7 linked regions of the Homo sapiens genome follow. The protein of the gene in region 6 interacts with the protein of the main gene of each other region in a biochemical or structural test. Each region holds a gene or a part of one and is shown on either strand. Other genes may lie near its edges.

Region 1 (3,500 bases), on a different chromosome or scaffold from region 6:
AAAAAGACTTAATGTTGAGGCTTGAGGTCCATATTCTCCTGAAGCTTCTATAAGTGATGTACATGACAGATTTTCTGGCTGAATGTTGTCGGATTTTTGTCTTATGAATGCTATCTCCCAAGCAGATTCTAACCTAGTACTAAAAAGAAATCACTTTATGGATATGCTATGAATATAGTACAACTGAAATCCAAGATAATGTTTCAGATGTTATTAAAAAATACTTATTATAAAGTACTTAATACATCTTAAATTACTGCTTTCAAGGAGACATTCTAAATGACTCATTCTATCTCATGGATAGTATAGTTACCTCAACTTGGCTCCGGTAATTATGCTTTTTGCTTCTTCAAATGATACACCAATCATAGATTCCTTGTTGACTGAGACAAGTTGATCTCCTGGCTTCAAACGACCATCCTAACAAAAACAGTAACATTTATAAAGGAACTAATGAGGTATTTAAAAAAAAATTAATTGATGTAATTAAAGCAATGAAAAGTTTTCGTGAAGAATGCCTTCAAAAAGAGTAAAAAGTAAAATCTTAGACAACCTCAGTAGCAAAATCTCTTGATTAAAGTCTGGTTTGGTAACATATATTATGAGTAAAATGGAATGGTTCATGTATTGCATGAATAAATTTACGTGGTAAAGAATTCTTAATATGGTAGGTAGGACATAGGCCAGTATACCAGGAAAAGGGACCTGTTTTAAAAACTGAGCACTATGGGGCTGATAAAGCTCTGACTCTGTGATAAAGTGGGCCAAATAACTGTGGGATATTTCACAATACAAAACTCATTTATTTTATTTTCTCTGCATTCCTACATATGTCCTCCCACCAAACTGTTCAATGTGTGTGTGGATTTATCCCACATTGAGATTTTTAAAACTTTAGTCAAGGGTTTTTAAAAAAAAAAAATTAAATTTTCAAAATTTTTTGTAGAGATGAGGTCTCATTACATTGCCCAGGCTGGTCTCAAACTCCTGGGCTCAAGCAATCTTCCCACCTTGGCCTCCCAAAGTGCTCGGATTACAGGTGTGAGCCACTGCGCCTGGCCAAGGATTTTAATTATATTGATCCTACCCATATTTCAGCATAATCTTTTTTACTATACCTGCTATCCCCCTATGATTAAGGCCTAGTTGGCTGTGCATATATTGTTAGCCATATCCTGCTAATAATGACAATTCTAACTGGCTGCCTGGTGTTGCCTTTGCTAAGGCCTGGCTTGCTCACAGCTAGCCTAACTGAGTAAGACAGAGCATATCAGGAACAAGAGTTAATGTGGTTGTTAGATATGTTAGATAAGTTTCCCAGTTTTTGTCTTTTCTTTTCATTCAAACTAGAAAATAAAAATAAGCTTTCTTCTTTTACAGTTCCTAAGGTATTTCCCTATTTATCATTAATTAGTACAGTGGTAGAAACCATTATTTTTATAACTACAGAAAAAGCTTATATGGTTAAAAAGGGAGATTTTCACCTTGATGGTACTTAAGTAACTTCCACAAATTCAAGAAAACATCTTTCTTTAAAGTCTTATCTACTAAAATATATCCCTTGGATACTGATCTTTGATCTAAGCTGTATTATTTGTAATAATGGTGATTCACAGTTATTTTACTCCTAAATAACAACAGGTATTATTATTTTTTAAAAAGACATGAAGTACTATCTCTTTCACTGACTAAAGAATATATAGGAAAACAACAAAATTGACATAAAACATTCATGAAAGGATTTTATAGAAACATATCTCAAATAGTGTGTAAAAGATTATATAATCTAGATGCATAATGACCCTATCCTACTGAAATGTAAACATTATTTAAAATACTTAAGCCAAAAGAGTCAACTTAATTTTTAAAAATATATAAGCCAGGCACGGTGGCTCACATCTGTACACCCAACACTTTGAGAGGCTGAGGCAGAAAGATTGCTTGAGCCCAGGAGTTCAAGACCAGCCTGGGCAACATAGTTAGACCCCATCTTTCAAAAAAAAAAAAAAAAAATAGCTGGCACATGTCTGTAGTCTCAGTTACTCAGGAGGCTAAAGTGGGAGGATCACTTGAGCCCAGGAGGTCAAGGTCATGACTACGCCACTGCTCTCCAGCCTGGGCAATGAAGCAAAAATCTGTCTCAAAAAAAATATATATATATATAAAATATATAAAATATATATATATTTATATTATATAATATATATATTTATATTATATATATTTATGTTATATATATAATTTAAAAAAAATTTTTGATTTTATGTAAATATGTGATTAAACATAGTTAGCAAAGTCAGACAACATAACATGCAGTGTTAGTACAGAAAAAAAGTTCACATGAAGGCAATTTAGCCCATCTTGTATTAAAGTACACTGATGTATAGAAGCTGCATTTTCTGGCAGGAAGGGAGTCAGAAAAGAGAAGAAGAAGAATGCCTTCTGACTATGACTTCTGGTGTTTACATATTTTTTCTTTCTAAAAAGTATTCATAGCAGTTAGTTTTTTTCTTTGCCTCCTAGAATAAGATCTTAGCTGATCATGTGAATTTCTGAACCTGTTTAAAAGTCAGAACCTGCAAATGAAAACAAAGCTATTTTTGTAAGTCTGGCATTCGAGTGCATTCTGCCCCAGATGGATTAATGTATATGTGAAGATACTAACTTCAGAGATATGTTGAGACCTCTTCCACACAGTCTAGATTCCAATTCAGCAGTTACAGAGCAACTACCTGACATGGGAGGCAATGTGCCAAGCACTTTCATATGCTGAACTTCAGATCTGAATTCTTTCACATTGACATTCATGTAGATGTTGAAATAATAATATATTCCTGACCACATAAACACTTCTGTTAAAAACGACCAGTACTATTCATTTCTATATTGACTTTGGTATATAGTTTTCTAAATAATACATTTCAATATTATGAGAAACCATCTATACAGCCTAATTCTGACTTAACTAACTCATTATACCTAATACTAAGGAATAGTCCTTCTGTAAGCCTTAAGATTCCTTTCCTGTACTTTTACAAGATGTAGACTGATGGTGACCTTCTTTTAACTCCAGTTATTACTGTGAACTGAGGCAAGTTGTTCAGCTTTTATGAACCTCTATTTTCTTAGCTGTAGAATGGGGATAAATATATGTAACACAAGGTTGCTATAAGAATTAAGTAACATATGTAAATTATAGCACATTATACGTGTTAAATAAGATGAAGTGAATGAGACTTCCATATCTGTTGTGGACAATTTTCATACTGATAGCAAATTTAATTATATTACTCATTAGATTGAGAACCTTTGATGGCTGCCAACTGGTAGGAAAAGTTGAAACTCCTCAACATCCCAAACCCAGCACAACAAATTTACTGCAACTTACTTTTTCTAGCTTCATCATCCACCTTCCACACCAGCATATTCTTCATTCTACTCTCAGAGAATGTGCCTCAAACCAGCCATGGTCTTTTGAACCTCAATGTTTTCACACATAT
Region 2 (3,500 bases), on a different chromosome or scaffold from region 6:
CCTGAAAACAACCCATTTATAATCACAGTTAATATAGTAATGATCACTTTACTGTCTATAATTTCCATAAAACTCCTTTTTATGAAAAATTGTAGTAGAAAAAAAAAAGCACATATTACATAATTCATCGTGATTATAAAAAATATTTTTAACTGGGAAGTATGCCACTGAAAAAAAAAACAAAATTACTGCTATTAAAATGATTGAAATAGCATTAAGGAGCAAAAATACTCATGGTAACAAACCTAAACTCTACCCTGTTCAATGTTATGAACAGTTTACCTTTCAAACTGCTATTCTTTAAAGTGAAACTAGTAATAGTGGAAAAATTAACATGTAGAGAGTCTTTTCAGAAACATGAGCTGTAATATCCCGGCCTGAAAGAGTATAATTTGTGTTGTAATCATTAAATCAGATAGAAGACATTTCTGTTTTCTGCAGTGTTTATTAGCAACTCCAGTTCTCTTAACTTAAAAGTCAAATGTCTCTTTCTAAACACTTTGAAAATTAGCCCCCAAAATATACTATTCTATTACTCAACTCAAACTAACCACTGCCCTGGTCTGTGGCTGGTCATTAATACAGAATTTTCAGCTACATATGAGTCATTTTTAAAAATGCCTAACAAGCTGAAAATATCAAAACTAACATTTCTTTGGGACTTGTTGGTTCCCAGTGTGTGGCATCATCATAGGCACTAAGCCTCACTTATTGCAGATTATCAACCAAATATCACTTATTTCAACAATACCTATCTGTACCCACAGAATCAATATTTAAATAACTATGCAGTTCTACTCTTGAGAGTCTAAATAACTATATCCCCACCATAATCATTTAGTAACAAAGCTACCTTAATTTTAATTGCTACAGTGTAAATACCATGATTGCACATTAATTACTTAAAAACATATGTATCAATTTAAAAAATATATATATATATCAATTTAAACAATGAATAAAGTGTATCAGCCTTATTATCTCACCCTTTTAACCTGGTAAGTTATTTGTATTAGAGATATATAAAAGAAACATCTTTTCCACTTACTAAATATGAAGATGATTCATTTCAATCTCTAAAGTTTGAATGTGAAATCACTTTTGGTTATGATTCAAAGATCCATGCACGTGGTGGCCAAGGGGATAGCATCTTGGCATTCAATTGTGGAGCAACTAAACAGTGCCAGGAACTATGGTAAGTACCAGAATTATAATGACGAGAATGTCAGTTCCCGCCCTTGCTTAGTAAAGAAGAGAAAGTGAGAAAGAATTCATGACAGTACACAGGGTAAGTACAAGATAGAGGCATACAGGAGAGTCACCCAGCTTAGCCATACAGGAAAGTCACCCAGCTTAGCCATACGGGAGAGTCACCCAGCTTAGCCTAGCTGGAGGTTGAGGGGAGATCAGGGAGACCCCAGAAACCAGTTTGAAAGGATAAATGAAGGAGGGAGAGAGGTGGGGAGCTGAAGGGAAAGATGTGAAGAGGATTTCAAACAGGAGTAACAGCATAAGCAAAGACCTGAGGATAGTCCCCATGGCCTAGACGGACAACCACTGGCAGTCTGCAGTTGTCAGAGTAAATGCGGAAGGTGGGGAATGACAGAAGTGGTCAAGCCCTAGTTTTGCCAGGCTTTTTAGATCACCCTAAGGGGTTTGGCTTTTGTAGTGCAGGTAAGAAGGCATCAACAAAGAGTTTTAAGTAGAGAGTTTACGTGTTAGATATCCCTGGATAGGTCTACTTTGGCAAGTAAATCGTTGGTGGATTTGAGGTGGACAAGACTCAAGGCAGGAGGGCTAGTCAGGGGGCTGTTTCAGTAGCTGAAGCAAAAATGACAAATAAAGCAATAGTAGAAGACATGGAAAGTAGGAAAAATATGTGAGAAACTCTTGAAAATCACCAGAACTTTGAGACTGATTAGGTGGGGAGAGAGAGAGAGAGAGGGATTCATGTTGACTAGATTTCTAGCTGGTGACTATACTTTCATGCATCCTTTTGTGAGTACCCATGTGCAGACTCATTGTAATACATGGGAACACAATCTTAATACTTCTCTTACTACCTCTCTCTCACATGAACACTGTTAAAAAATCCATGCTTTATAATCATATAAAAACACATATAGGGTTATTCTGTCACTGTTTTGAAAAAGTGGAATCATTATATATGTACCTATATAAAGTACATATATAATTTCTCACTTAACAATACAGCTTAGAAATCACTAGTGGCTGCATAATATTCAATATCAAGGATGTAGGACATTTGGTCATTCACCTACTGATAAGCTTTGTGTTCAGTTCTTGTTTTTCCACCACAAAGTTATAGGAACCATCAATATACACATGTGTGTTTATGTATATGTATATATATATATATATATATATATATATATATATATATATATATATATGTATCTTTACCCAAAAGACTATACCAATTTATATTTTCACTAGCGATGTGTGGGATCCACTCTCTTAATGTCTAGATTTCTAAATATACATCATTTTAAGAAGAGAAAGACACTTTTTAAAAAGAGGAAGAAACTAAAAGGAAGATAAAGAGGTAGAGACAGGGAAGTGTAAATAAGAGACCCCCACACAGAAGGGCAACTTATACTGAAAAGCAAATGAACTGAGAAATCATGAAGAGCTGAGTTCAAATTTTGTTCTATTATGATTTTAACCTTTCTAAGATTGACTGATTGCTTTAGTTTTCCTCTTCTTGAAAATAGATTATAGCTACCTCACAGGACTCTTGTCAATAGAAAATACAATAATGTTGTTCCTGACATGGTTAAGTTCCAAATAAATATCAGTTCCCTTCCTCTTGCTTTTACTAGATATAACTCTTGTGTTTCTGTATTTTTCTAACTGGCATTAAATGAAGGTGTCTCTAATGATCTCAGTTTGCCAGGTTTCAGGGTAGGTGATAGTGACACAAGAAGCAAAGCGAGGCACTGCCTTTAAGGACCCTACAGGTCAATATTCCTGGAAGGTTCTTTATTTCTACTCCAGAGGAATAGTTCCGAGTTAAGTAAGCATCAAGAGATTGGTCGACGGGTACAAAGTTACAGTTAGATAGGAGAAATAAATTCTGGTGTTCTATTACACAGTAGGGAGACTATAGTTAACAATATTATAGTGTATATTTCAAAATTACTAGAACAGAGGATTTTTGAATGTTCTCATCACAAAGAAATGATAAACATATGAGGTGATAAATAGGCCAAATGCCCTGATTTAATCACTATACAATGTATATGTCTATTGAAACATCACATTATACTCCACAAATATGTGTAATTATTATGTGTCAATTTTTTAAAAAGAGGATAAATGATTAGTGTATTAAGAAATTTTAATAGAATTCTAATGACTGTTGTCCCAAACTAGTTCTTCTAGCCCTATTAGAAGAAAGGGGATGTGTTAACAACAACAACAACAAAAAACCCACAAAAACCTAACCTTTCACTACAACTTCCCTAAATTAAAGAAAT
Region 3 (3,500 bases), on a different chromosome or scaffold from region 6:
AGGTGTAAATTATAAAGACAGATTTATAGAGAGGTCATAAGATGTGGCTATTCTGACCAAACAAATAAGTCAAGAAGTATGGGGCTAAACCTTGGCCTGGAGAGGTTTATCTGAAAAGTGTTTATTCCACTAGCTAAATGCTGAGACAATTTGCTGATCTTACCTGGCCTTACCTAATACAGTCTGGGCTACAACTGTGAAAAAAAGGGGAAAATGACCATGGATGCTCACAGCCTTCTGTTTTCCATCCACAGGTACTAATTCCTCCCAGAGCAGCTCCCCTAGTTCTAGTGCCCCCAATTCCCCAGCAGGGTCCGGGCACATCCGGCCCAGCACTCTCCACGGTCTTGCACCCAAACTCGGCGGGCAGCGGTACCGGTCCGGAAGGCGAAAGTCCGCCGGCAACATCCCACTGTCCCCGCTGGCCCGGACGCCCTCTCCAACCCCGCAACCCACCTCCCCGCAGCGGTCACCATCCCCTCTTCTGGGACACTCACTGGGCAATTCCAAGATCGCGCAAGCCTTTCCCAGCAAGATGCACTCCCCGCCCACCATCGTCAGACACATCGTGAGGCCCAAGAGTGCGGAGCCCCCCAGGTCCCCGCTGCTCAAGCGCGTGCAGTCCGAGGAGAAGCTGTCGCCCTCTTACGGCAGTGACAAGAAGCACCTGTGCTCCCGCAAGCACAGCCTGGAGGTGACCCAAGAGGAGGTGCAGCGGGAGCAGTCCCAGCGGGAGGCGCCGCTGCAGAGCCTGGATGAGAACGTGTGCGACGTGCCGCCGCTCAGCCGCGCCCGGCCAGTGGAGCAAGGCTGCCTGAAACGCCCAGTCTCCCGGAAGGTGGGCCGCCAGGAGTCTGTGGACGACCTGGACCGCGACAAGCTGAAGGCCAAGGTGGTGGTGAAGAAAGCAGACGGCTTCCCAGAGAAACAGGAATCCCACCAGAAATCCCATGGACCCGGGAGTGATTTGGAAAACTTTGCTCTGTTTAAGCTGGAAGAGAGAGAGAAGAAAGTCTATCCGAAGGCTGTGGAAAGGTCAAGTACTTTTGAAAACAAAGCGTCTATGCAGGAGGCGCCACCGCTGGGCAGCCTGCTGAAGGATGCTCTTCACAAGCAGGCCAGCGTGCGCGCCAGCGAGGGTGCGATGTCGGATGGCCGGGTGCCTGCGGAGCACCGCCAGGGTGGCGGGGACTTCAGACGGGCCCCCGCTCCTGGCACCCTCCAGGATGGTCTCTGCCACTCCCTCGACAGGGGCATCTCTGGGAAGGGGGAAGGCACGGAGAAGTCCTCCCAGGCCAAGGAGCTTCTCCGATGTGAAAAGTTAGACAGCAAGCTGGCCAACATCGATTACCTCCGAAAGAAAATGTCACTTGAGGACAAAGAGGACAACCTCTGCCCTGTGCTGAAGCCCAAGATGACAGCTGGCTCCCACGAATGCCTGCCAGGGAACCCAGTCCGACCCACGGGTGGGCAGCAGGAGCCCCCGCCGGCTTCTGAGAGCCGAGCTTTTGTCAGCAGCACCCATGCAGCTCAGATGAGTGCCGTCTCTTTTGTTCCCCTCAAGGCCTTAACAGGCCGGGTGGACAGTGGAACGGAGAAGCCTGGCTTGGTTGCTCCTGAGTCCCCTGTTAGGAAGAGCCCCTCCGAGTATAAGCTGGAAGGTAGGTCTGTCTCATGCCTGAAGCCGATCGAGGGCACTCTGGACATTGCTCTCCTGTCCGGACCTCAGGCCTCCAAGACAGAACTGCCTTCCCCAGAGTCTGCACAGAGCCCCAGCCCAAGTGGTGACGTGAGGGCCTCTGTGCCACCAGTTCTCCCCAGCAGCAGTGGGAAAAAGAACGATACCACCAGTGCAAGAGAGCTTTCTCCTTCCAGCTTAAAGATGAATAAATCCTACCTGCTGGAGCCTTGGTTCCTGCCCCCCAGCCGAGGTCTCCAGAATTCACCAGCAGTTTCCCTGCCTGACCCAGAGTTCAAGAGGGACAGGAAAGGTCCCCATCCTACTGCCAGGAGCCCTGGAACAGTCATGGAAAGCAATCCCCAACAGAGAGAGGGCAGCTCCCCTAAACACCAAGACCACACCACTGACCCCAAGCTTCTGACCTGCCTGGGGCAGAACCTCCACAGCCCTGACCTGGCCAGGCCACGCTGCCCGCTCCCACCTGAAGCTTCCCCCTCAAGGGAGAAGCCAGGCCTGAGGGAATCGTCTGAAAGAGGCCCTCCCACAGCCAGAAGCGAGCGCTCTGCTGCGAGGGCTGACACATGCAGAGAGCCCTCCATGGAACTGTGCTTTCCAGAAACTGCGAAAACCAGTGACAACTCCAAAAATCTCCTCTCTGTGGGAAGGACCCACCCAGATTTCTATACACAGACCCAGGCCATGGAGAAAGCATGGGCGCCGGGTGGGAAAACGAACCACAAAGATGGCCCAGGTGAGGCGAGGCCCCCGCCCAGAGACAACTCCTCTCTGCACTCAGCTGGAATTCCCTGTGAGAAGGAGCTGGGCAAGGTGAGGCGTGGCGTGGAACCCAAGCCCGAAGCGCTTCTTGCCAGGCGGTCTCTGCAGCCACCTGGAATTGAGAGTGAGAAGAGTGAAAAGCTCTCCAGTTTCCCATCTTTGCAGAAAGATGGTGCCAAGGAACCTGAAAGGAAGGAGCAGCCTCTACAAAGGCATCCCAGCAGCATCCCTCCGCCCCCTCTGACGGCCAAAGACCTGTCCAGCCCGGCTGCCAGGCAGCATTGCAGTTCCCCAAGCCACGCTTCTGGCAGAGAGCCGGGGGCCAAGCCCAGCACTGCAGAGCCCAGCTCGAGCCCCCAGGACCCTCCCAAGCCTGTTGCTGCGCACAGTGAAAGCAGCAGCCACAAGCCCCGGCCTGGCCCTGACCCGGGCCCTCCAAAGACTAAGCACCCCGACCGGTCCCTCTCCTCTCAGAAACCAAGTGTCGGGGCCACAAAGGGCAAAGAGCCTGCCACTCAGTCCCTCGGTGGCTCTAGCAGAGAGGGGAAGGGCCACAGTAAGAGTGGGCCGGATGTGTTTCCTGCTACCCCAGGCTCCCAGAACAAAGCCAGCGATGGGATTGGCCAGGGAGAAGGTGGGCCCTCTGTCCCACTGCACACTGACAGGGCTCCTCTAGACGCCAAGCCACAACCCACCAGTGGTGGGCGGCCCCTGGAGGTGCTGGAGAAGCCTGTGCATTTGCCAAGGCCGGGACACCCAGGGCCTAGTGAGCCAGCGGACCAGAAACTGTCCGCTGTTGGTGAAAAGCAAACCCTGTCTCCAAAGCACCCCAAACCATCCACTGTGAAAGATTGCCCCACCCTGTGCAAACAGACAGACAACAGACAGACAGACAAAAGCCCGAGTCAGCCGGCCGCCAACACCGACAGAAGGGCGGAAGGGAAGAAATGCACTGAAGCACTTTATGCTCCAGCAGAGGGCGACAAGCTCGAGGCCGGCCTTTCCTTTGTGCATAGCGAGAACCGGTTGAAAGGCGCGGAGC
Region 4 (3,500 bases), on a different chromosome or scaffold from region 6:
TGACATCATACACTCTGAGAAGCTCCTGACTCAGGCCCCCTCTGAGGCACTCCTCCCCACTACTCCACTACCACTAGGGCTGCCCTTGTTCAGCCACACAGAGTCAAGGCTGGAGGTGAGTCAGGGGCCAGGATCCCAGCCAAGTGGGGAAGCTTCAGAGGTCACTCATGGGCAGAGCAATGCTGACATTTCCCCCATCCAGCCTGTATCTCAGTCTGGAGGAGGGTGATGAATGTGATCCGTTAATGGGAAAGGAAACCCCGGGCTCATAGAGGTCATCTGGGCACCTAAGGCTCCAGAGGCTGGATGAGGACCAGCTTTGCTGAACTCCAAAGATGGAGCATCCTCACCGTGTGCCAGGGCCAAGCACAAACAGGGCTGACCTCACAGGCCTCTCCACCATGTTTAAAGGCTCCAAGCCAGTGGCTTACCTCCCACCCTGCCAGCTCAGAGGCATGGTTAGCTGTGTTGTGGTTTGGGGAGGCTTTGCCCACGTACTTCCACAGGGGGTCATGGAAATCCCCTCAGCAGTGAACACGGCAGAGCTGATAAGTTATGCCCGACTTCTGTGGATCAAGGTGGGCAGGGGAGTGGGGAGATCCCACTCAGCCAGGCTTAGGCCAACTGCTTCTCAGAGCTGAGTAAAGACCCAGGACCTGAGCAAGGCTGGGTCCCCCCACCCCCACCCCCAGTGGACCTTCTATCCCAGGATCATTTATGGAGCACAGATGGGCTTGGTAACCCCCTGTCCTCCCCTTCTTGATTGGCTGCAAAGCATTACACAGTCCTTAGTGGGAACTTTTCCCAAATCCAGATTTAACCAGGGCAGAGGTGTGGGCCACGGTGGCGACAGCTGTGGCAGGGCAGCTGAGGGGCTGGTAGGAGTAGTCAGCAGCCAAGTTAAGGGTCTGTAGTCTTAGGAGAGAGCCCCAAAATCAAATTTTGCTACCCCACTCCCTCTCTGTGTGACTTTAAGCACCATCTAACCTTTCTGAGCCTCACTTGTCTCATCTGTGAAGTGGGGACTATAGTAGCCCTTTTTTAAGTTGGTAAATGAGGGTTAAATGAGGTGTTGCACAAGAAACTACTTTGAAATGGTCATCAAGCTGGTCACTCAGGGGAGGGGAAAGGAATGAAACAAATGCCCCAGAGGCTATTCAAGGTCTTATTTCAGTTGCCTGCAACACTTGCCATAAGTGCCCCAACACACTTCTAGTCTAAGTTAAAAGGGGATTTCTTCCCTTCTTAAGCTATAACTCTAAACAGTATCTGCCAGGCCCCCATGAAAGTGCTACTCCTTGGGACTGTTCCTGGATGGGGCACCCAGGAGCTGAGGCAGAGAGGCTGTGTGAAGCTGGGCTCACCCAAAATGCCAGCTGCCCATAACTGCCCACCTCGTCCTTCCATCCTCCCAGCCCAGCCCACCTGTGCATACCTGCTCACAGACAGTGTGAGGTGATCGTGGCAGCCCTTGATGCGGTTCTGTGCCTCCAGGTGTGTCATGAGCTCTGTGCTCTCACCATTGATGGCCTGGATCAGGTCTCCTGGGCACAGGGCAGCCAATGCAGCCTTGCTGCCAGCATGGACCTGCGAGCAGACAAGCCAGATGGCTGGGCACAGTCATGATATGGTCTTGCTGCAAGCTGTGCCCTAGGCCTCCTCCAACCTCAGAACCTAGCCAGTGTGGCCTGCTACCAGCATGGCCTGTGGATGGGCAAGCCGAGTGGCTGGTTGAGGTCCCCATGTAGCCTGGCTGCAGCCTTGCTGGAAACACCTCCAACTCCAGCACCTGGAGGCCTGGCAGGGCATGAGGATATACGAGAAGGGCTTCCTCAGGGCTGGGACAAATGGATGTTGTTCTTGCAGCCTGCGTATGTGCCCAAGGACATGCAGGGGACACAGAGACACATGGAGACATAGGTGCTCACAGATACATACACAGCATGGACATATCACAGATACCCTACACAGACAAGGCCCCAACCAGACAGACTACACACCTTGACCTAATATTCAAACCCTTAGTGACCTTGCCTTCCTACTTGCTTGATTTCAACTCTCATCCCCACCTCCACACCCACACTCTGTCCAGACCATGTGAATGTCTATGGGGTGCTCACAGGCACCATATATCACTCACCTCTACACTTCTGCAAAAGCTGCTCCCTCCACCTGGAACATTCCTTTGACTCCCACATCCTCATCCTTCAGATCTCAGCATAGAGGCCACTTCCTCTGGGAGCCTCTCTGGGATCTCACTACCCAGTGTGCTCCCATGACCACCTTTTCCCCCTACACTGTTCATGTTAATACTTCATTATAATTAAAATGGGAAGGTCTGAACATCACCTCCCTGAGCAAGTCCAGGGCCATCCAGTTCCAGCTGACAGCCTGCGTTTGGGGGTCAGAATTCTACCTCTACTTCCCCTGCAGGACAGGAACTCAGGCTACCTCAGTGCCACTATTGACCCCTCGGGGTCAAGCAGTGTTCACACCTGGAAGCTCTTACAATGCTGGTCAACTGAAGAAGGCTAGAATGGGGGGTGGAGTTAGACTCACAGAGATATCTAAGTAAGCAACTCAGGGGAATCCAGGCCATGGAGCACCCCTCACCCTGCCTTGACCCCAACATAGCCTTTAGAAATATATTTCTTACCCAGCCTCTCCAGCCAGTGCCCAGCTGGTTCAAAAGCTGCCAGTGACCCCATTCTTTTGGGTGGGAGCTCCTACTGGTGGGAACTCCTGGAAGCCCAGCTAGGCTCAGTTCAGCCAGGTCTCAGTAGTGAGTGGACAAAGCTGAGGTGCTGGCAGCTCCTTGGCTGGAGGCCTGGTGTTGGCACTGCCCAAGCTGACCTGCCCTGAAGTAGGCTGCCTCAAGGAAACGTTCTTCTGAAGCATGACACCCTCAGCCAACTAGCCCATCATTAATGTTCACTTGTAGGGCCTGGGCACCTGTGCAAGCCTGTCATCCTGGGGGAGACACCCACTTGGCACCATCCCACCCTCCCCTCAAGGCCATCCTCTGCCTCCTCCCCTTCATGGATACCTGCCTTGTGCCAGGGCCTGGGCTCTATGCTTTACCCATAACTAGCTCACAGCAACCCCTCAACCACCTGGTGAGGCAGAGGCTGTTCTCATCCCTATTTTACAGATGAAGAGAAAGAAGCTTGGGGGAGGGATGCCATGCCCCAGTCCCCACACTGGAGAGGAGTCTTTCTTCAGGGGGCGGCTAACTGCGGCAGGATGACTCAGCCAGCACAAGGGGTACATTCAGGCTTCTGTGGGCGGAGGAAGTTTCTTGAAAGCAGTGGTGGCTGGGATGCTGCCAGCTCTATTGAGCTAGGGGAGTTCTGGTCAGAGAGGGCGTGAGGCCAAGAAATTGTGACTCTCCCAGTCACCTTTACATGCATTATCTCATTAATCCTGAAGGCAAGCCCATTTCCTAGATCAGGAAACGGAGGTCCAGAGAAGTACAGAAGGATAGTTAATTGATAAAAGAC
Region 5 (3,500 bases), on a different chromosome or scaffold from region 6:
TCTGACAAGTGTGGTATTTCATTCCCGGGGTCACATGAGATTGGATCACCAGAATGGTGCTGAAATGCTGATTTGAGGTGACTCAAATCGTTTATATAGACAGAGGCCCCACAAATGATATCACATCCTCAAGGCAGCCTTGCTGGGGGCATCAGAGAAGCCATAGCTTCCCTAACTTGAGCTGGGTTTGGAAGGATAAACAGGGGTTCACCAGGCAGTCAAGGAGGGAGGGGAACAGCATGGGCACAGGCTCTGGGAGGTGAGGTGACTCAGCCCAGGTCACCCAGGCAGTAAGAGGTGGGTGGCAACTGGAAGCCTGGTCCTCTCTTCCCACCATGTTGAGTCCTTAACCCTGGAGCCTCCCATACCTTTGGCATTGCCAAGCTTCCCTGATGATCTCTTCCCTGAAAGGACTTGGCACCCAGGAGCCCCTCATCCCAGCCCACTCACCTGGTGGTGGGGAAATGGCTGTTGCCTGGACTGGCAGGGCTGGCATCTTGGGTGAGGCTCTGACCTGGGCCTGGGGAGGAGCAGGGAGCACTGGTCAGCTGTGGCCAGGACCCCAGGAACCCCAGAGCCTGGAGCTCCATGAGGCCAGGGTCTGGGCATTAGGGGTGTGAGTGGGCCCGGGGTGTGGGGGGAGTGTGCACCAACCCTCAGGGCTCAAGATCACGTAAACGTGGCCTCCGCAGATGTGTCTTTTCCTGGGAGGAAGTTCTGGGGGACTGTGACCCACCCTATGTCACAACCCATTTACTGCCTGCAACAGGCAGAACATCAAGGCCCATCTCCCAATCAAGTTCTCAGCTGAAAAGTCTCCATTTCTCAAAACCCACTGGAACCACAGAGTGCTGGGATGGAGGAGGAAGGGGGCTTCTGGGGGCTAAGCAGACCAATGCCTATGCCCACTAGTCTTGTTTCCTCTGAAAGCCTGCCTTAGAGCATGGAGCCCGCCCATCCTGGAGGGAGGGAGAGCTGGGCCTGGGCAGGACAGAGCAGGCATGAGAGAGGCATGCGTGCGCTGCTTGGTCTTTTCTATTCTTGCTGTAACGCCATTGGCATTGCCCCCTGGATGTCTTCTCTGCCCAGCAGGCCCTGCAGTGGACACCTACATGCCCTGAGGCCTACGGGAATCTCCAAGTGGCCCCAGTACCCAGCACCTTCCAGGGTAATCCCCAAGGTCCCCTTCAGGGAATCCAGGCCAATGGGGCCTGGCGACTTACCTGAATGGCTTGGTCCACTTTTAGGTCCTCTAGAGATGGGTACAGGGATGACATGGCTGATTCTCAGAACACCCTGCAGAGTGCAGAGGGTGGGGAAGGATAAGGATGCAGCTGATGCCCCCTTGAAAGGAGGCACAGACATCCGCAACAGCAAGCGGGTTGGAACTTAATATTCAAACAGAAAGGCAGCAGGGCACTTAGAATGCCTCCCCGAACTCCACCCCTAATCCCCTGTCGATATTTGAACTCTACTGTATTCCACTCATCTCCAGCCTCACTGTCAACTTTTAATCTTGGCCACAATGAAGTAAGACCAGTAGGAAATTTATAAAGACTCTCACACAAACTGTAGCAGAACTTAGACACTCAACAGGGCACTGCTCCAGAGGGAGGAGGGAATGGGGGGTGGAGAGGCACCATGAGCACTTATTTACTAAACACCTTCTCATTGTCCCAGGGAGAATCAGCAGGACCTCTGAGCAAGGTGCCCCGAGAAAGTGAAAGGAATGATGACCTCTTAAGAAATGTTTTATTCCCTTCCTGACGAAATGTGGGGAAGGAGCAGTCTGCCTTTCTGGGTTCCTTCCCTTTACTCACTAACCACTGGCTCTGTCACACCTCCAGGCTTCGCTGAGGCAGTCCACTCCAACTGGAGCCCCTGCCCAACCTCCTTGTCACCCTCGGTTCCTGTGGGACACGCCTCCCCTGGCTCCCAGGCAATACGGTCACTGCCCCTCCCACCCAGGACCCTGCCCTCCGGGACAGCTCCGGGACAGCACCGGGCCAGCCTCTTGCTTGAACTCGCCACTTGTCCTGACTGCAGTTCTGAGGGGTAAAGGTGTGTCCTATTCACCCCACTGAACTCACATGTGATGGGTACACATGATAAAGGAATGCCCGCTGGTGGCACAGGAAACTGAGGGTCCTGTGCCTGAGCGATGTGACTCCAGGCTTCCCAGGATCAGATCCGCTGGGCACCTCCCTGAGTGACCACAGGCACGCCGAGGACATACTCATCCATCACTGCTCCTTCTCCTCCCTCTGCACCTGCTGCCTTGACCCCTGTGTCATCCTTGGCCCCGCCCCCACTATCCCTTCTTGTCTGTCATCAAATCCCATCTCTCCCACATCCCGTGTTGTGCAGGTCCCCATCATCTCCCTGGCCCTCTCCAGGTGCCATAACACCCTCCAAACACACTGCTGCCTCCCCTCCTGCCGTCCTGCTGCTCTCCAGACAGCAGCCACCAGGCCCTTTGTGTACACACTTGGGATGTCATGCCCTGGCTGAAAGCCCGCCAGTGGCTTCCCTGCCTTGGGAATGTACTCTCCTTAAAGAGGCTCACAGGGCCTTCACGATTCCACCAGAGATTGGAACTGGTGGGCCCAGGGCCAGATGGAAATAGATTTTATTTGACCTTGTGGAGTACTGTAAACGTTCAGATTAGCAGCTTAAACACAAAGCTCAAGGTACTGGATTTAATAATCGAATTTCCCACTGCTCCCAAAAAACAGGAAGCTTTGGCAACCCTAGGCTATAGCAGAGTAGCTACAATTGAGTAGCAGCAGACTCCAGGGTGACCCAGTCCACCATCCTCTATTGGCTGTTACACCCAGACCATTGTACTCACTGGTGCCAAGTCCCAATAGATATTTGTTTGCAACCCTAGTCTACCTCTCCAGCTTCATTTCTTGCCTTACGTCCTTTCAGCTGCTACTTTCAACTCCAGCCACAATGAGCTACTTCCACGTCCTTGCATGTGATTCCCTCCTGTCTCTTTTGCATGTGTTATTCCTTCTATCTGGAATACCCCTCCTCTCCCTGCTCCTTGCTTGGCCAACTCCTAATAATTTTCAAGTCTCAGATCAGGGAGCTCCTCTTACAGGAAGCCTGCTTTGATTTGTGCTCCCCCTAGCCCCTGCTCCATGTCCTACTCCTGTTGAGTATTCACCACTCTTGTGGTTGCCTCTTTACTTGTCTGTCTACCTCCTTAGGAGTTCCAAGATGGCAGGAACAGGGGCTTCTCATTTGCTGTGAAGCCTCTAACCCCTAGCATGGAGGCTAGCTCAATAATATTGCCAGAAGCAACACATTCTACCTGGGCTTCCACTTTTCTCCTTGTAAAGTAAAGCTCTAGTATCCTAAGAACACCCACCTTCCTGGATGAAACAAGGACCAGAAGTCCCAAATGTGCCTCTCACAGTCCTGTTTTATTATTATTATTATTTTGAGACAGAGTCTCACTCTGTTGCCAAAGCTGGAGTACAGTGGCGCGATCT
Region 6 (3,500 bases):
ACACTTGTGGCCAAGTTAATCTAGCAACCACAGTGTTGATTAGTGGATCTGCCACAACCTAGAGGACATTCCTAGGACCCATCCTTTCTAGCATTCAGACTACGAAAGTGTTCCAAGAACTTTCAACAGCAACAATGAGCTGCTAAACGTTAGCATCTACAAAATGAATTTGCATAGGGATAGAAGAGCAGTTACATGGGGACAAGCCCTGCGGACTGTGAGGTCAATTGGCCATGTGTCCAATATAGCTCAACTGCATGTATCACTGATGATGCCCAAATTGACATAAACTTCCTGACCACATTGGCCAACATGATGAAACTCCATCTCTACTAAAATACAAGTATTAGCTGGGTGTGGTGGCGCGTGCCTGTAATCCCAGCTACTCGGGAGGCTGAGGCACGAGAATTGCTTGAACCAGAAGGTGGAGGTTGCAGTGAGCCAAGATCATACCACTGCACGCCAGCCTGGGCAACACAGTGAAACTCCATTTAAAGAAATAATAATAATAAGATAAACTTCTCCATGAGCCCCAAACTCATGACCAATTGAATGCCTATTCAACATCTCCACTTGAATGTGTAGCAGGCATCTCAAACTTAACAGGGTCAAAAATAAACTCCTGTCCAGGCACCATGGCGCATGCCTGTAATCCCAGCACTTTTGGAGGCTAGGGCGGGAGGATCACTTGAGCCCAGGAGTTCAATACCAGCCAGGGCAACATGGCAAAACTTCATCTCTACAAAAAATATAAAAAATTAGCTGGGCATGCTGGCACACACCTGTGGTCCCAGCTACTCAGGGGGCTGAGGTGGAAGGATGGCTTGAGCCCAGGAGGTGAAAGTTGCAGTGAACTGAGATCGCACCACTGCAATCCAGCCTGGGTGACAGAGTGACACCCTGTCTCAAACAAAGAAACAAAGATTTAATGTGGCCATGATAGCTGTCTTTGAATACTATGAGGCGAGCATATGAAGGGAGGTAGCCAACTTGCTCTGCGTGTTGACAAAAAAACAAAGGAGAGCGGCTCTGAACCTATTTTGGTTCTAGGAGCTGCTTGATTCACAGATCATTCTTTGCTTCATTAAATTCTGTAATGCTTTTCTTAGAAGTAAGTAAACACAAGTAGAAATTGCATGGAAAGAAAACTGTGGCTCAATACAACATAATTCTGGCATTCGAATCTAAAGTCATGAGAGTCACATAATGCATTTCCCCACTGCCCAGTATCTGGAAGGGATTCCTGTACTGAGTGTGGGCTAGAAGATCTCTTCCTTTCAACCCACTAATTCTATGACACTAAGGAAAAGGGGAAGATAGGAGCTAGCGCAGAGAAAAGAGCAGACAGGGACTAGGCCTGAAACAGACCAGCACGGAAGTGGTCATGGAACCCAGAAATGGAACAAGGAGCTACGTCGCAGGCCACAAAAGGGCTGTAAGTACTCATGAGTAAGGGGCTGGAAGTGGGAGAAGCAAAGTCTGAACATCTGCTGGGATGAAAGAGGGGAGGGCAACCTTGGGTGTAACAAACGCTACCGGCTGGCAGGGACGACATAGCGACTGAGGGGTGGTCATTCGCCACACGTCTCAGGCAACACTTTCTCCAACTGCAGTTCTGTGACCTGGACATCTCATCCCCTGCCAGGAACGATTTCCCACCTTCTCCATCCAAGCTCCAACAGGAAGGTAAACCCCTCCCCAGAGATCTCCATCTTGGCCAACATGGCAAAACCCTGTCTCTAACAACAACAAAAAAATTAGCCAGGCCTGGTGGTGCACATCTGTAATCCCAGCTACTTGGGAGGCTGCGGCAGGAGAATCGCTTGAGCCCGGGAGGCGGAGGTTGTAGTGAGCCGAGATCATGCCACTGCACTCCAGCCTGTGCGACAGAGACTCCATCTCAAAAAACAAAAACAAAAACAAAATCCCCACCCTCACACAGCTTTTCCATACTTCTACTCCAGCACACCCAACACGGGTTCAGGATGAACTCCTGCAGCAGCGACTGCTGGACACACGGACTATGTTTTTTTGAGATGGAGTCTCGCTCTGTTGCCCAGGCTGGAGTGCAGTGGCGTGATCTTGGCTCACTGCAACTTCTGCCTCCCGGGTTCAAGCAATTCTCCTGCCTCAGCCTCTCGAGTAGCTGGGACTACAGGTGCATGCCACCACGCCCAGCTAATTTTTGTATTTTTAGTAGAGACGGGGTTTCATTACGTTGGCCAGGCTGGTCTTGAACTCCTGACCTTGTGATCCACCTGCCTCGGCCTCCCAAAGTGCTGGGATTACAGGCATAAGCCACCGCACCCAGCCTGGACTACGTTTTCTTTTGCTTTTTTTTTTTTTTGAGACAGAGTCTCATTCTGTAGCCCAGGCTGGAGTGCAGTGGTGCAATCTTGGCTCACTGCAGCCTCCACCTCCTGGGTTAAAGCGATTCTCCTGCTCGGTCTCCCAAGTAGCTGGGATTACAGGCATGTGCCACCATGAAAGAAGGCAGGGTGCCTTCTTTCTTGCCAGGTGCAAATCCATTACAATAAAGTACCATTCCTGTTCTCAAAGAGCTCACACAATGAGGGAGGCAGCCACTGTATCGTGCAAATAATGCTAGCTATTAAACAAGCCCTGATTCTCAATGGCTTAATTCAAAATCACCAGCCGAGGCAGTGGATCACATGAAGTCAGGAGTTGGAGACCAGCCTGGCCAACACAGCAAAACCCCTTCTCTACTAAAAATACAAAATAAATAAATAAATAAAAAATTATCCGGGCGTGGTTTTGAGCTCCTGTAATCCCAGATACTTGGGAGGAGGCTAAGGCAAGAGAATCGCTTGAACCCGGGAGGCAGAGGTTGCAGTGAGCCGAGATCACGCCACTGCACTCTAGCCTGCAAGACAGAGATAGACTCCGTCTCAAAAAAGAAAACAAGAAACCAAGACCATGCCTATTGTCATGCTATAGTCCCCTTTTGGGCCATCTAGGGTGGTGAACAACACCATACATTTACTCCTAGCTGGACTTTCACCATCTTGCGGCTCGGCCTCCTCTCAGTCCTCCTCCTCTCCAGGAGGCCTCTTTATTCAGCTGGAGAGGCGTTGCATGGGGCTGGTTTTTGTGTTCCAGTCGTGGAAGCGAGACACCTTTTGCAACCACTTCCTATTGGCCAGGTCTCAGTTTCATGGTCACCTCTGACCACAAGGTTGGGGTAGAAAACATAGTCCAGGCTGGGCATGGCGGCTCACGCCTGTAATCCCAGCACTTTGGGAGGCCCAGGTGGGTGGATCACCCGAGGTCAGGAGTTCAAGACCAGCCTGGACAACATGTTGAAACCCCATCTCTCCTAAAAGTACAAAAAATTAGCTGAGCATGGTGGCGCACATCTGTAGTCCCAGCTATTTGGGAGGCTGAGACAGGAGAATCGCTTGAACTCCGGAGGCAGAGGTTGCAATGAGCCGAGATCACGCCACTGCACTCCAGCTTGGGCAACAAGAGTGAAACTCCAT
Region 7 (3,500 bases), on a different chromosome or scaffold from region 6:
AGAACATCTCTAAAGGCTTTATAACGCAGTCATAAGAGAAGAGAATTGGTGAGTCTACAGACAGTCCTTGATAAGTACAGCAAACTTGTGCCTGGTGAGGCACAAAACTTGGGTGTCTGCAAGATAAATGCTCATATGACCACAGATTTGCTAACCAACCTTTGATACCAGTTGGGCTTTACCCTCTTCAACTTGGGCACAATCTTCCAGCCAAAATGCATCTGAGGTAGAGGAGGTAGAGGAGGAAGAGCTTTCATTGTCTTGCTTCACCATTATCCAGTATGGAGAAGGGGCCCTCACTTCTTTCTTGTCGTCTCTGTGAATCATCACGTCACAATTAATGTCTTTTCCTACACTAATAGTATGGTTCTTCTTCTTATATCCATGCCAGTCTCTGGAGATGGATATTGGTCTCCTTGCAGGGTGATGCACAGTTGACCACGGATATCTATAATATTGAAGTCTTTTATCTAAATCTACATTTTCATTATCATCACTGCTTGTGAAAGATTCATCTTTTGCCAGCTCAATTTTCTTTGGTGTGCTGAAATGAAAAGAATAGTGAATAAAATAGATTCTTCATGTCTAAACATTTATGGTCCCCTAACAAGATGCCTTATAACTTGCTTTGACTCATAAAAGATACAATTTAGCTTTAGCATTACCTTTCTGTGTCATTGAAATGTTTCTCTTTTTTAAATCGTCTTGAAATCTTTTTCCATTTCTAAATGGAAATCAAATTCTGCCTTAAATTACTTCACCATACCTTAAAAAGTTTTGCACAGACTTATACTAGACTACTGACCAGAATATTAGGAGGTGTTAAAGGGTAGGTTAATTTCACTGCAGCTAAAGTGACGGATTCAACCTGGCCATCTCCTGAGAACTCTATTCTTGTGGCTCACGTGGCATTAACACAACATTACTGATTTCCAGAGGAGTCAGGAAGTCAGGAAATAGTGGGCCTTAAGGATCTTCAACATCCTAGTCATTAGTAAGTCTTAGAGTCTTTTTTTTAGAGAGGGTCTTGCTCTGTCACCCTTGCTGGAGTGCAGTGGTACAATCATAGCTCACTGCAACCTTGAATTCCTGGGCTCAAGTGACCCTCTGGCCTCTGCTTCCAAAGTAGTTGAGACTACAGGTGTGTATGCTGTATGCCACCGCACCTGGCTAATTTTTATTTATTTTTATTTATTTATTTATTTTTAAAACAGGATCTCCCTATGTTGCCCATGCCTGTCTCAAACTCCTGGCCTCAAGCAATCTTTACTTTGGCCTCCAAAGTGCTAGGATTACAGGCATGAGCCACTGTGCCCAGCCAGGTTTTTGTTGTTGTTGTTGTTGTTGTTTTTAACTTTCTCCAATTATTGACTTTCTTGATTGTTGAAACTAGGTGGTGCTTGCCTGCTAGCACCTCCAGGTCTCTGAACTTTCCTAATGCCTACAGTACCTGTGCTTGCTTTAACTTTCCAGAATGAATGCTCTGTCACCTGCTTTCCCTCATCCTGGTGCTATTGCCCAGCAGAACCAAAACTAGATCTTTGTGATTACAAATCTCTGGTACATTCTGCCCTGCTAAAAGGAAATAGGTTTCTTCCCTGCCAACCTGTTAAGACTTCTGGTGTTATCACTAATAACCTTGGCAGTCTGCCTGTTGTATTTGCTTCCAATAATTTGAATGGCTTTTCCAAAAGTTTATCTCTTCCAGTAATAAACAGTTGATAATGAGTAATTTTTACTGAGAGCCACTAGTCTTAAATACTGATTTTCTTTGTCTGATTTGCCTTCAGACACACCTAGGTCTTCCTGAACAGCACATGAATTTTTTTTTTAAATCCAAGTATTAGTAACTTTTTTTTTTCAGACTGCAGGGGGAATCCTTGGCAACTCTGATGGTTAGGTAACCATAAAGGACAGGTAAATTGTCATTAGGTAATAAAGCCACAACCCTGCAGAGGTCAGGATTGGCTAGAAACAAACTTTCTATACCACTTGGCCTACCCAGAGCGTTACATGGAGAATTTCTCCAGTGTGTATACCCAGTGCCATTTTCTCCTGGAAAAGTTTATACTAGCTTTGTGAAAGCATCTTTTTCCTTCTTCTTTCCCTGCCGCGTTATACATAAGTTACTAAAATGCCTCAGATATGGGTACTTTGCCTAATTAAGAAAGGGAATCAGCAGGTGCTTGGTATTGTTTGTGGGTTTTCGCCTCTTACTTAAGTTGTACTGTTCTATCTTTTCTTTGCTTTTGAATGGTCAGTCTACCATCCTTAGAATTTAATATTCTGGATCTCAAAACTCCTCCATGTAATGAAAATGCTTAGAACATAGTTGTTATGTAATCACATGAGCCCAGGCTTTTAGAGTCGTGCCCTCCAGTGTAGGAGTCGCTGAGTAGGATTTGATTGTGAGTTGTGATCGTGCTACTACACTCCAGCCTGAGTGACAGAGTGAGACCCTGTCTCAAAAATAAGACTTTTAAAATTAAAAATTAAAAACAAGTGAACCACTGACCACATGAAAGTCCTAGGGCAATTTTAGCAAAACAAGACAGACTCAGTCCCTGCCTTGATGGAGTTCACATTCTCCCAGGGAAACACAGTGAACAACTGATTACACAGATTATTTCATTAAAATTGGGATAAATGTGAAGGAGCGAGCTGTGAGAGCATATGTCAGGTGGACCTGTTTCTAGGAAGACCCCTTGGAGAAGTTACACTGGAGCCTTCAAGGGTGACTACTGAAGAGCAAAGTTACAAACATGTTGCACACAGAGAAGAGCAAGTGCAAAGACCCTGAGGCAAAACAAAAGGCAGAGAGCTGGAAGCTAAAGGGGGCTAGAGAAGGATGGGGAAAGCAGTATGAGTTGAAGTTGGAATGGTTTGCAGAGGCCAGCTGAACCCCATAGAGCATCATTGGCCAATGTGAGGATTTTGACATTTATCCAAAGAACAAAAAGTCTTAAGAGATTTTTTGCAGGAACATGCCAGGATCAGATTTGCATTACAAAAAGATCATTCTGGCCAGGCTTGGTGGCTCATGCCTGTAATCCAACACTTTGAGAGGCCGAGGCAGGCAGATCACCTGAGGTCAGGAGTTCGAAACCAGCCTGGCCAACGTGGTGAAACTTCGTCTCTATTAAAAATACAAAAATTAGCTGGGTGTGTTGGCATGCGCCTGTAATCCCAGCTACCCTGGAGGCTGAGGCAGGAGAATCACTTGAACCCGAGAGGCAGAGGTTGCAGTGAGCCAAGGTCACGCCACTACACTCCAGCCTGGGTGACAAGAGCAAAACCTCGTCTCCAAGAAAAAAAAAATACAGTTTTGGTGATAATACAGTTTGAAAGTAATTAGCATGTGGATAGTCATAGAAACCACAGGCATCAATGAAACTGGCTAGGAGAAAGGACACCAAGAGGAAATGGCCAGAGGTAACAGGAAAATCAGGGGAGTGTGGTGTCACAGAAGCCTGGGAAGTGCTATTTCAAGAAGAGAGTGG

Evidence for each region.
Region 1: the proteins of ABCC4 (region 6) and STXBP4 interact in a test that uses a peptide from one of them, tested with the Homo sapiens proteins (one large-scale study listed by IntAct).
Region 2: the proteins of ABCC4 (region 6) and INTU interact in a test that uses a peptide from one of them, tested with the Homo sapiens proteins (one large-scale study listed by IntAct).
Region 3: the proteins of ABCC4 (region 6) and MAST4 interact in a test that uses a peptide from one of them, tested with the Homo sapiens proteins (one large-scale study listed by IntAct).
Region 4: the proteins of ABCC4 (region 6) and PDLIM4 interact in a test that uses a peptide from one of them, tested with the Homo sapiens proteins (one large-scale study listed by IntAct).
Region 5: the proteins of ABCC4 (region 6) and SDCBP2 interact in a test that uses a peptide from one of them, tested with the Homo sapiens proteins (one large-scale study listed by IntAct).
Region 7: the proteins of ABCC4 (region 6) and PDZD9 interact in a test that uses a peptide from one of them, tested with the Homo sapiens proteins (one large-scale study listed by IntAct).

What each region holds. Positions count from the first base shown.
Region 1 is NC_000017.11:54,996,265-54,999,764, reverse strand, and holds part of STXBP4 (syntaxin-binding protein 4), read right to left. Parts: intron 421-3,500; coding exon 314-420; intron 140-313; coding exon of another isoform or gene 134-139; coding exon 1-133. UniProt on the Homo sapiens protein: Plays a role in the translocation of transport vesicles from the cytoplasm to the plasma membrane. Inhibits the translocation of SLC2A4 from intracellular vesicles to the plasma membrane by STX4A binding and preventing the interaction between STX4A and VAMP2.
Region 2 is NC_000004.12:127,639,457-127,642,956, reverse strand, and holds part of INTU (protein inturned), read right to left. Parts: intron 1-3,500. UniProt on the Homo sapiens protein: Plays a key role in ciliogenesis and embryonic development.
Region 3 is NC_000005.10:67,162,893-67,166,392, forward strand, and holds part of MAST4 (microtubule-associated serine/threonine-protein kinase 4), read left to right. Parts: intron 1-254; coding exon 255-3,500.
Region 4 is NC_000005.10:132,260,696-132,264,195, reverse strand, and holds part of PDLIM4 (PDZ and LIM domain protein 4), read right to left. Parts: intron 1,588-3,500; coding exon 1,436-1,587; intron 1-1,435.
Region 5 is NC_000020.11:1,319,140-1,322,639, forward strand, and holds part of SDCBP2 (syntenin-2), read right to left. Parts: intron 2,062-3,500; exon of another isoform or gene 1,297-2,061; 5' UTR 1,278-1,296; coding exon 1,224-1,277; intron 521-1,223; coding exon 451-520; intron 1-450.
Region 6 is NC_000013.11:95,291,452-95,294,951, forward strand, and holds part of ABCC4 (ATP-binding cassette sub-family C member 4), read right to left. Parts: intron 1-3,500. UniProt on the Homo sapiens protein: ATP-dependent transporter of the ATP-binding cassette (ABC) family that actively extrudes physiological compounds and xenobiotics from cells.
Region 7 is NC_000016.10:21,984,117-21,987,616, forward strand, and holds part of PDZD9 (PDZ domain-containing protein 9), read right to left. Parts: intron 545-3,500; coding exon 151-544; 3' UTR 1-150.